2 separate regions of the Homo sapiens genome follow, and region 2 is linked to region 1. The links come from fine-mapping of genetic effects on gene expression. A gene starts in region 1. The other region holds a variant in brackets. All regions are shown on one strand. Distances are from middle to middle. Region 1 holds the start of CRTC3 (CREB regulated transcription coactivator 3). Region 2 overlaps CRTC3-AS1 (CRTC3 antisense RNA 1).

Evidence for each region.
Region 2: its variant is fine-mapped to the expression of CRTC3 in CD4 T cells (BLUEPRINT, PIP 0.95).

Annotation. Positions count from the first base shown.
Region 1 is chr15:90,528,649-90,531,551 of GRCh38, reverse strand. CRTC3 (CREB regulated transcription coactivator 3) reads right to left here and starts at 1,629. Exons shown (of 15, transcript NM_022769.5): 1 at 1,349-1,629. The coding sequence starts at 1,480. RefSeq lists an enhancer at 526-685 and silencers at 1,076-1,255, 1,276-2,025, 2,126-2,175.
Region 2 is chr15:90,682,122-90,685,024 of GRCh38, reverse strand. All of the region lies in intron 2 of CRTC3-AS1 (CRTC3 antisense RNA 1), which reads left to right. Among named protein-coding and RNA genes, the nearest start is that of LINC01585, 23 kb to the right of the region's middle. RefSeq lists an enhancer at 1,468-1,968. The variant C/T (reference allele first, on the strand shown) is at 1,670.

The sequences.
Region 1 (2,903 bases):
TATATATTTTTTCTCAATGTGAACAGAAATGTAAGTACAGGAAATATTTCACTTTTTCCTTAACTTCACTGAAAGAAAACACCATCATGAGTATAAATGGCAACTGTCACCTAATCTCCCCTTGGGGGACTGTGACAGAGAGTGGACGGTGGCAAACTAGAGTTCTTACTCCATTTGAAAGGGAGCTCAGCTCAGCTCCCTTTCATCATCACCCAGCTCCAGCAGGTCGGTAGCTGTCATGTAGGAATTCAGAATTAGTGTTACCAGGTCTCCCAATTTTTAACATATATAAATAATAATAAATAAATAATACGGAAATTTGGATTTTGTGTGGAAGTCTTCCAATTTAAAAATTCTGGCAACAGATTCAATAATTTTTCCCAAACACTGCGCTGGCCAAAAAATAATGTGTCTGCAACTCAGCTGGTTTGCAACTCTGCTCTCAGCTCTCCTTCAAACTGTCTCCCCCGCCTCAGTCCCCCAGAATCTGCAGATCCTCCCCCATCCTCCCGATGGTCCTCCAAGGTCAGCATTCAGGATCCTCAAGGCCAGCCCCACTCCTGCTGACCCCCCTTCTCTGCAACCCTGCGCGGACACTCCGGTTGGCTCTCCATCCTCCACTGCCTCACTCAGCGGTTACCTAACCTCTCCAGGTGTTTGTCCCGGCTCGCGCCTTACTCATTCCTCCAGGTCCCTCTCCAGTCACCAGCGACGCTTGTCAGTTCTCACTAAATATCCCGGGCCGAACAAAGTAAACTGGACCCGATAAAGCACCTCCAAGGAGTAAAAGGAGCAGAGCCTCACACTCGACACGGAATCCCGTCGTGGTTCCAACAACCCGAGCCACCCCAGGGCCGGGCCCTGGATGGACTTGTGCACAGAGCTCCCCCCACGAGCGCGTGGGACCCTGGGGTGCCCGCGGCCTTCCACGCCGGCAGAACAGCAGGGCTCGATGGTGGGGGATGTTCGGAGCGACCAGAAGCCGCGCCGCGCCACCCGGCCGGCCTCCGAGCTGTTTGCGATTTCCTCTCGGGGCTCCTCGTCCTCCTCCCCCTCAGGCCGCCCTCGCACGGCCGCCCGCCTCCACGGGCTTCACCCCTGCCCATCTTCCCGCACACGGGGCCGGGCGACCCTCCCACCTCAGCCCGGGATCGCGAACGGCTAGCGGGTGTCGCCAGGCGGGGAAACGCCGAGGCCGCGGCCGCTCCGGTCCCCCTCCCAGCCGCCGGTTCCCGGGCGCGGCCCCCGCCCGGCCCCGCCATCGCCTTGGCCCCGCAACCTCTCACCCGCCGCGCGGGTCCCGCCCGCGGCCGTGGCCGCCCCCGCCCGCGCCGGCCCGGGCCCTCACCCGCGACAGGGTGAGGTCGGTCATGAGCTGCTCGAAGGCCCGCGTCTCCTCGGCCTGTCTCTGCGTGTGCAGCGCGATCTTCTCACTGAACTTCCGCGGGTTGGCGCTGCCCGAGCCCGGCGAGGCGGCCATGGCGCGGACTCTGCGCGGGCAGAAGCGGGAGACGGCGGCCGTGGGGCCTGTACCTCGGCCCACCCGTCCGTCCACAGGCCGCCGGGGCCGCCGCCCGAAGCCAGTCGTCCGGCGCGACCCGGCAGAGGAGCCGCCGCGGCCCCGGAGCCAGCGAGCGGCCGGGAGCGCGCCGAGGTCCGCCCCCGTGCGCCCGGCCCCGCCCCACCCTCGGCGGGGCCCGCCCGGCCTCCAGTCTGCCCCGGCCCCACGCTCGCGGGCTGAGGGCTGCTCCCCGCTTCCCGGTCTGGCTCGGGACCCGCCGCCGGCGGCCACCTGGAGGGACCCCCGTCAGCCCGACAAAGTGGCCCCGGCGTACGGGGAACGCTGGGGTGCCACTCCACGGAGACTCTCCGACCCAGGGATGGCCTCTGCGTCTACGCGACGTGGAGAACACAGCCTGTGCCCGCATCCCCCCTCCCCCAGCCAAATTACGAAGATTTTCTTCTCCAGGTGGAACCTGGGCGACCGGACCTCGAGCAGGTCACCTCGGGCCCCCGCAGGGGGTGCGCCCATTTTGCCTGGGGCCTAACGTCTGCCCGCCAGCCCTGCCGCTCCAGGCCCCCGGCCTCCAGCCGCTGGTTTCCTGACCTCTCACACCCACCCCTCCCCGCTCCAGTCAACCAGAGCTGTATCTCGGCTTTAAAAACTGCCTCCTATTCTGCACAAACTACAAACACCATCCAGCCCTGCTGCAGCCTTGGCTCCATAGCCCCGGCCCCCTTTCCAGGTTCTTTCCAAGTCTCCCTACGGCCTCTCCACTCCTGTGGCAGCTTCAGCAGGTGCCAGCCCCACCTTGGGAAACCAGCGCTCAGCCTCAGCGAATTTCCCCTTCTTTTGGGGGAGTGAATGGATGTCTTTCTCTGTCGCCCGGTCTGGAGTGTAGTGGTGCGATCTCGACTCACCGCGGCCTTGACCTCCCGGGCTCAAAAGATCCTCCCACCTCAGCCTCCCGACCAGCTGGGACCACAGGCGGGGGTCACCACGCCCGGCTAGTTTGTAAATGTTTTTGTAGCAATGGGGGGCGGGGGTGGGTCTCGCTATTTTGCCCAGGCTGGTCTCGAACGCCTGGGCTCAAGCGATCTGCCCACCTCAGCCTCCCAAAGTGCTGGGATAACAGGCGTGGGCCACAGTGCCCGGGGAGTTTCCTCTTTGGAGTCCAGAAGCTACTCTCAGCATAAATGTTGATGTGCACAAAGATGTCCCGGGGAGCCCTGAGCGTGTGTCAGTGTTCTGTAAAGAGGGAAATATTAGAGGCCTACGGAAGAGTACGGAAAATAATATTAATACTACCCACGCCCCCCACTATCAAGATTAAACAGACATCAATACATTTTGCTGCATGTACTTGGGATTTATTAAAGACATACAAAATTAGTCATAACGA
Region 2 (2,903 bases), 150 kb before region 1:
GACACCTTTCCCCCAGTCTTCTATCATCTCTTTCTCCCCATTCCTCCCGGACTAGCTAATTCCTACTCATTGGTCAGATCCCAGCCTGAAAATCTCTTCTTGACCTTTCAGGCTAGATCTGATCCCACAGTAATACACTCTGTACTTCTCCATCAAGCATCTCGGTCGTCTTTGTGTATTTTCATGACTCTGACCAATGCCCAGGCAGTTAGCTCCATGAGGGTAGAGACCAAGTTTATAACAGGTGCCTACCTCAGGGTCTGGCCCAAGTGTGCTCAGTAAAGAGTTATTGAATGGATGAATGAATCAATGAAGGTAAGTAGGTGTTGGCATAGCCTCAGGACTCAAGGCCAGATATTCTTTCTGGAACTGCACAGAAGTTCTAGTTTATCGTCTGCAGTTGACATTGACAACCCTGGGTAACACCAACCACTGTGTACCCTACTGCTGCTCCCATGGCCAAGGTCCTGCCCGGGCCAGGCCAGCTTACTGCTCTCCAGGCTCAGCCTGGCGGTCTGAGCATCGCTGACCATCTTAGGGAGAGATGCTTCTGGGGACTGATGAGGGGGGAAGCCAGACTGGAATGCGTGGGAGGTGAGGAAAGGGAGATTGTGGATGCAGACAGCTTTTTCACAAGTTTGGCTTTGAAAGGGAGGAGAGAATTAGGAGGTAGCTGCAAGGAGATTTGGGGTTTTCAAAGCAGTTTTTTGTTTGTTTTTTTAATTTCAGGAGAGATTTAAATATGTCTAAATGTCAGTGGGCAGGTTCTAGTTAGGAGGGAGAGGTTGAGTAAATAGGAATGGGAAAGAATCCTGAGGCGAGGAGAAGAGGGGCCTCGAATGAGCACCTGGATGGTAGTTAGCAGGCTCCTTCTGCCTCAGGCTTGGCTGAGGCCCCAGACAGGCAGGGCAGCCCCTCCCAATCCCAGCATGGGATGCTAGACCACCTATGCAGGGCTGGGAGGGAAATGTCTGAGAACTGGTAGTTCTGAGTCACTGTATTGACCACCCACATCCAACTTATAAAGCGGTTGGACAGGCCGAGAGAGAGGAGCCAGAGACTAGGAAGCAGGTTTATTTTTTATTTTTTTAATTTTTTATTATTTTTATTATTATTTTATTTTTGAGACAGAGTTTTGCTCTTGTCACCCAGGCTGGAGTGCAGTGGCATGATCTCAGCTCACTGCAACATCTGCCTCTTGGATTCAAGCGATTCTTCTGCCTCAGCCTCCTGAGTAGCTGGGATTACAGGCATGTGCCACCACGCCTGGCTAATTTTGTATTTTTAGTAGAGACAGGGTTTCACCGTGTTGGTCAGGCTGGTCTCAAACTCCTGACCTCAGGTGATCCAGCCGCCTCAGCCTCCCAGAGTGCTGGCGTTACAGGTGTGAGCCACCTGCCCGGTGGAAGCAGATTTCTTTAGCAGAGGCTTGTACTGTGGAGCCCGCCCCCAGCCACACCCATGGGGGAGGGGTGAGTGCGTCCTGCTTTCCTCAGATCAACTGAGGGGGACACTGGAACCAGGGAGACACAGAGGTGTCCGAATCACACCTCGAAATCTACAGGGGCGTGTGTATGTATGTTGTCTGCCTGTCAGTCCACTGGGCTTTGGGGTTTTTTTAGTTATTATTATTTTTAATTAAAAAAAATTGAGATGGGTCATCTTGCTG[C/T]GTTGCCCAGGCCGGTCTAGAACTCCTGGGCTCAAGCGATCCTCCCACCTTGGCCTCCCAAAGTGCTGGGATAACAGGCGTGAGCCACCCGCCTGGTGTATGTACTCTTCCCTCAGCATTATGTTTTTGGGATTCACCTATGTTTCATGTATCAGTAGTTCATAATATTACACTATTAACTTTTCTTTTTTTTCTTTTTTGAGACGGAGTCTTGCCCTATTGCCCAGGCTGGAGTGCAGTGGCGTAATCACAGCTCACTGCAGCCTCCACCTCCTGGGTTCAAGCAGTTCTCCTGCCTCAGACTCCTGAGTAGCTGGGATTACAGGTGCCTGCCACCATGCTCAGCTTATTTTATATTACACTATTAACTTAAAGCTTATGATAAATATTGTTAAATTCCCCTCCAGAAAAATGTGATCAAGTTTTTTTAATTTTTTTTTTTTTTATTTTTTAAGAGATGAGGTCTTGCCATATTGCCGAGGCTGTTCTTGAACTCCCAGGCTCAAGCAATCCTCCTATCTCAGCCTCCTGAGTAGCTGGGACCACCTGTGCATACCACCACACCCGGCTAATTTTTGTATTTTTTGTGGAGATGGGGTTTCACCATGTTGCCTAGGCTGGTCTCAAACTTCTGAGCTCAAACAACCCTCCCGGCTTGGCCTCCAAAAGTGCTGGGATTACAGGCGTGCGCCACCATGCCCAGCCATGCTGGGCTTTGAAAAAGGGCTGCATCAAGAGACAGATGAAGGTCAGTCAAATGTGTGCATTCCAGATGTGGGTCACAAGCATGAGAGAGAGCGGCTGGCTGTTGGTCTAGATCAGTGGTTCTCACTGAGGGTGATTTTCCACCTGAGGGGATGTTTGGCAACGTCTGGAGACATTTTTGATTGTCACAACTAAGGGGTATTACTAGTGGGGGTCCTCTAGTGGGCAGAGGCCAGAGGTGAGGGGGGGATAGGAGGGCCTTGGAAGTTTGAGAGAGTGAAGAATTGAAGTAGTCATCCCATAAGTAGGGGAGCTAGGTGACACACAGTAGGTTGCCAAGTGTGGTGATGGCTACAGGCAAGATGTAAGAAAATGAAGGTTCCAGAGGTGGAGCCAGGACAGATTCCTGGAGGCCATTCGGGGGAGGGGGCTTCGATAGGATCCCCTAGTAGAGCCTGTGTACACTGGGGTCCATGACCCCGGCCCCTCAGCAGAGCTTCGCTGAAACCTGGAGTGGCACTGAGGATCT